Regions from separate parts of the Homo sapiens genome. Here region 1 is linked to region 2. The links come from fine-mapping of genetic effects on gene expression. A gene starts in region 2. The other region holds a variant in brackets. All regions are shown on one strand. Distances are from middle to middle. Region 1 has its middle 2.1 kb from the start of MIR1273C. Region 2 holds the start of SCAF8 (SR-related CTD associated factor 8).

Evidence for each region. PIP is the estimated chance that this variant, and not a neighbour inherited with it, causes the effect.
Region 1: its variant is fine-mapped to the expression of SCAF8 in whole blood (TOPMed, PIP 0.91).

What each region holds. Positions count from the first base shown.
Region 1 is chr6:154,854,038-154,856,955 of GRCh38, reverse strand. No RefSeq gene overlaps it. Among named protein-coding and RNA genes, the nearest start is that of MIR1273C, 2.1 kb to the right of the region's middle. The variant T/G (reference allele first, on the strand shown) is at 1,534.
Region 2 is chr6:154,732,192-154,735,109 of GRCh38, reverse strand. It overlaps SCAF8 (SR-related CTD associated factor 8), which reads right to left and starts at 1,694. Exons shown (of 20, transcript NM_014892.5): 1 at 1,180-1,694. The coding sequence starts at 1,209. RefSeq lists silencers at 922-1,521, 1,672-1,791, 1,822-2,061 and an enhancer at 1,158-1,661.

The DNA.
Region 1 (2,918 bases), 120 kb before region 2:
TGTGTAAATTGTAAACATTATATACCAACTTATATGGAATAAAGTATACATTAAAAAAGAAAACTGCTACGTAGGCCCATGACTATAAGTCACAATTTCTTTTAAATTTTTTCTTTTCTAAAAAATACAGCCAGTGATCTCTATGGTGTTTTCAAACTCCAAGATATTGTTAAAACATTAAAGGCTTATTCACTTTCTCTTCAACTCTGATCTGGTGCCCAATCTTTCAGAATAAAAGACTAATTACTAAAGATCATTGATATCATGATATATTGTTGAGAATATGGCTTCATAAAGTATACAGTGAACTCAACAGGTCAACATAGCAATAACGTAGTTCATAGTATGAAAAGGAACTCAGTATTTACTTATATTGTCTGTAAATATTACCTGTTTATATTGCAACAAATCAAAAAGTAGCAAACATCATTTTTAGGGTTACAGAATTTTTTTAAAAGTCTCTCTGGAAAGATCCTGACAGTTGCACATGAGGACACTTCCAGGAAGAATTATGGATGAGTTCTTGACGAACTGAGCCAGAATGTTATATATAACTGAACACTTCAAACTCAGTGTAAAATCTGCCCAGCAGCAGTCAGTAGATAATCTTTCTGGTCTTTTGGTAACCTTAAGGATGGACTGACTGACTTAAAATTGTCTGTCAGCATGTGTAGGTGTCTGCCATAGGTAATAACATAGATGTAAATGGCAGCTGGTGTATGAAACACCCTAACTGAATACTGTATTTGGAAAAAGCAAGCTGAATTGCTCAGAAAAGGCAAATATAATACATAAAAGACTGAAGAAGAAAGAAGGGAGTAAAGCAGTCTATATATTTATTGTAGAGCAGAATACATATTTATCGCAACATTATGTTACGTTATCTTTAATCAGAAATAGCATTTTAAAGATGTGACTTAAAAGAGTCTGAAAACTTCACTGAATTATATTTGAAAAAAACACCCCAAGACATTTTAGTAAGACTTAAAACACAAATTGAAATACCAATGTAGAGTTTATATTTATAAAAATAAGAATCAGCATTGTGAAGCATGGTAACTCCTTAATGGAAACTAACCAGAAGTGAGAATTAAAAAAAAAAAAAAATTTAAATATAGTTTGGGACAGAGAATTCTGAATCATATAATTTTAATTAAGGTAAACAGCCTATGTTATCAGCAATTGCTCTTCTAGAGTAACGCTATAAAATAGGACCTCCTGGAAATGTTCTGTACTTGTGCCGCTCAATTTGGTAGGCACTAGCTAATGTGGCTGTTGAGCATTTAAGTGTGACTGGTGTGACTGAGGAACTGAATTTTTAATTTTTTATAAATTTAAATAGCAATAGGTGACTAAAGGCTACCATACTGGACAGTACAAGTCTTGAGTAACACGTGACATCATGCTGTAAAAGGACCCTACCATTACTGTTCCGGAAACTTTCAAAAGTTAAAGAGGAGACTAGGGTTATTCATGTTGGGTGGGCAGGGAAGGGACAATAGGAGAAAAGAAATGTCCAAAGAAACCTAAATT[T/G]TACCTCCATGATTTTAGCAATGTTTCCTTCAAATCCATGGACTAGGGCTACGAATATTAAAAATAAAATAAATAAATAAAGAAGAAAGGGAAGCAGAAATCACAAAGACAGAAGGAAAGATTTCCTAAGTAATGGCCACTAAGTATTAGCAGCAGTCAACATTTATTATGCAGTCTGTTTTATGTATTGTACTAAGCACTGCACATGTATTTTCATTTGACCCTCAAAATGAGTCTTCCAGGTACTTTTTATTTCTAGTTTTATAGATGAGGATATTGAGACTTAGGAAGTTAATTTGCTGAAACAAAAATGCATCTTCTAATGAAAATCTAGCAACTAGCATCCTTTCTCTATGTTCTAGCTGTATCTTACGTACCCAATCTGTTACAGCAATTCATACATTATATTGAAATAGAATTTACTGGTTGTTTCTCACTAAAAGGTAAACTCCTTGAAGGCAGGAACTGTGTTCTGTCAATAACGTAATATCTTTCTCAATTACCTACTGTCACCAATTTTTATCAAGGCATCTGAAATATATATATTATTCAATAAGTATTTGCTGAATTGAGTATGAATTTGTTTCTACATTCCAATGATAAACATGTGGTAACACACTCTCTTTCTCTCAACCCTCAGGCATCTATATTTGAGTTTTGAAACAGGTTGAAAGTCTGTTTAAAATAGCATTTTGTAAACTATTTCAAATAATCTAGAAAGAAACTTGGAACTCTTATAATCCGATAAAAACATTTAACTTTAAGCTATTTTTTTCAGGCCCATTAATTTAAAATGTCACATTTCCCATATTTTTAGAAATATTTTAATAGAAACTTTAATACTGTGACTGAAACATTTCCTACACAAAAGTTGTGCCATATAACAACATTAACCTCTGTATGTTGATGTGTAAGCACGAAGACATACCTCTTAAGGTACTTGAGCTGAACATAGTGCCTACGTTAACTTTTAAGTAATAAAGCTTTGATGGTTTCCAATCTTTTCATCTTATTTATCAATGACACTTTTTAAAAACCTTTCACATTTTACTGAATTCTATTCTCTCCTAATGGGCACATTGCCAGTATCTACTAAGGTAGAGTGAGGCCTAGGACAAACTTAGGGAAGCCTGTCAAAAAATCAGAAAGAACCAAAGAAGGTATTCCCTCAGTCCTAATCCACAGACTTCCACCTCAACATTTCATGAAATTCAATCTATAGGCAAAATAAAAATATTCATATGAGACATGCTCTCAAGGCTCTAATATTACCAGAGATGGTATCAAATAAAACTCTTAAATACACCATGGAGCAGCTCTAGTTAAAAAATGATCTCACCTTCAGAAACAACTGTACATATGACTTCTGCTAACTGTTGTCTTAG
Region 2 (2,918 bases):
CTCTGTCACTGGGCTGGATTGCAGTGGCGCAGATCTCGGCTCACTGCAACCTCCGCTTCCCAGGTTCAAGCGATTCTCCTGCCTCAGCCTCCTAAGTAGCTGGGATTACAGGTGCCTGCCACTACGCCCAGCTAATTTTTTGTATTTTTAGTAGAGACAGGGTTTCACCACGTTGGCCAGGCTGGTCTTGAACTCCTGACCTCGTGATTGGCCCGCCTCGGCCTCCCAAAGTGCTGGGATTACAGGCCTGAGCCACTGTTCCCGGCCATAATTACACTTTCCAAGGCGTACGGGTAGGGATACTAATGCTGACTGTGCAGATGTGTACTTGCTATGTTTGATGTTTACATTAAGGCCTATTGAAGTCGGAGTTTAAAAAGAAATTGAATACATCAAAACCTGTCTTCTTCCAGACTAGTAAATTCAACTACACAGTGAAAATGGAATCTGCTTTTTAAAATCTTGTTTGACACGTGAATGAACCAGCGAGAAATGTTTCCCCCATAATCTTCCATCTCTCGATGCACAGATCTCTCCCTACCATTTGTCTTTATGTCGTGATGGATTAGAAGAGGAGCGAGTAAAAATAAAAGATATTGCAGAATAACCTTTGCCTGCCTACCAACCATCCAATTAGCTCAAGTCCCTAGCTGGCAAATTACCTAGTCAACAATGCCTCAATTATAAACACTACGTGTAACGTGACCACAGATCAACACCCCGTAGGTTCATTTCCCCCACCGCCCCCAATCGGTGTTAGCCTCAGTGAGGACCCGGGAAGGTCTGGAGAGTCATGTCCAGCGTCCACTTAAATCCTCAAAGGCCCAGGAAGGAGGTGGGCGGGCCAGGCCTCGGCGGAACTGACCTCGAGGGACCTGTCGGGAGTCTCCGGGTGAGGGCCCAACCGGGTCTTTCCCTCCGAGCTCGCAGCCATTCCATAGGACGCCGGAGACGCCAGAACCTCCCTCCGCCCCAGGGCGGCCCTCCCCCAACCCTCCTCCCGGACCCGGGGGAGGGGCACCCAGAGGAGAAACACCCCTCCCCCACGGGCACTGCTAGGCCACCGCTCACCCCACCCTTAAAAAACCCGCAGGCCCGCGCCCACCCTCCGGGCCCCGGCCTCGACCAGGGGTGGGGGCGGTGCGGGCAGGAGCAGGGGAACCCGGCTGCCATACCAACCTCGCTATTGAAGGTCTTCACGGCCTCCATGTTGTCGCTGCGGAGGCCCCGAGCCCGGCGGCGGAAGAGGCGGCGGCCACTGCACTGGGTGGGGAGAGCGAGACGCGGGCTGCTGCGTGGCCGCGAGGAGGGGGCGCTGGCGGGAGAGCGGGCCGCTGCGACCTCGGGGCGGAGTGGAAGGGCACGCGCTGGCGGGGAAGGGCTCCCTCAGCGGCAGAGCGGCACCGGCATGGCCGCTAGGGCGGGGGGAGCGCCGTTCTAGGGAACAGAGGCGCTGCCGGGGCGGGTCGGCGGCGGGCGGGGGAGGGGCTGGGCCGCGGCGCCTTCTCTTCTCTGCCCCGCTCCGTTTCGGTCCCCCTCCCTCTAGCCCCTTCCCCTACACTCTCCACTCCCTTCTGCCCCTTCCTCCGACGGGCTCCTGTTTCACCTCCCCGCCGCTCGGGCCGCAGGAACCAGCCCCGCTCGGCGAAGACAGAGGAGGAAGCGCTGGCAGCAGCGGCTGCGGCATCCAATATGGCGGACTCGAGTCGGGCCGCGCAGTTCGGGGATCCGCGGCGCCGGCTAGCGCGCCCCCTGGCGACTGGACCGTGCGAGCCCCGGCGGCCGCGCGGAAACCATCGAGCGCGCTGGGGCCAGAGCGTCGCCGCCCGTAGGCCCGGCTGGGCTCCGCTGCCCTCGCCTTGGCTCCGGGGCCGCCCGCGCCTCGCCCCCTCCCCGCGCCCCGCGGACGCGGGAGTGAGCGCTGCGGCATCCGGGGGAACGCCGCGGCGGGTTTGTACAGCAGGAGGAGGCAACTCCAAAGCGCGGCTCTAATAAGAGCCTAAACGTGCCCAAGAAGCGGCAAGTTGAGGAAATGTGCGCGTTTCCCTTGTTTCCCGGTGGATTGGTCCTTTTGCACAAGCGGCAGGGTTTAGTTGCTTTTCACAACTTTACTGGACAGTGCCCTAAACATCCGCAGCCTTCGCCAAGAAAAAGTTCCTGGTCATCTATTTAGTAACTGAACTCAATTGTTTTAACTGCACAGGGAGGGAACATTAGAAACCAAAGCCTTGGATTCGGGTTGGGGCAGGCGGCGAGGGAAACAGGCATGCAGCAGCTCCTTGCAGGAAATGCCCGCTGCATAGGATCCAGGGACTGGAGTGGCACAATGAGCGCATTTGTCTGCAAGGCGGGAAGGGGACCCTAGAATGCACAACACTTGAATAGGTGAAAAGGGAACCCGTCTGTTTCGGAAGATGAATTGTTCTAAAGGAATTTTGCCCTAGGATACTTGGAGTAAAGGTAAATACAGTATTTCTTAGATGGATTAGGAGATGCTGCTAGTAAAAAGCCTTCTCTCTCGTGCAGCGCAAAATAAGGTACCAATTTAAAAATACTTATCGATGTTAAAAGATAGGGATGTATCGTGGAACCCCGAACACTGCTGTCCTCTTGTTGAAAGTCATTTTTCAACAATCATTCCCAAATTCACTCAAAGGGAGAGAGGAACATAAGGGCAGGATCGTACTTTTGGAGAGTTTTGGAATCAAGGTAGTTCCTAAGAGCTGTGCGCAGAGCCCCGTGAAACTGGGAAAGTAAGGCCCTTCTTGAGGTTTCAGAGCCTTCATTCTACTTCATTGGCAGCTTTAGTATAGGGCCTGGCTACTGAGAAGGTAACAGGGATAACTCACCAAGTGCTTTTATATTTACTTTCAAAATCTCAAATTCTGTCACAGATTTCTCCACCGTCTCCCATCTTC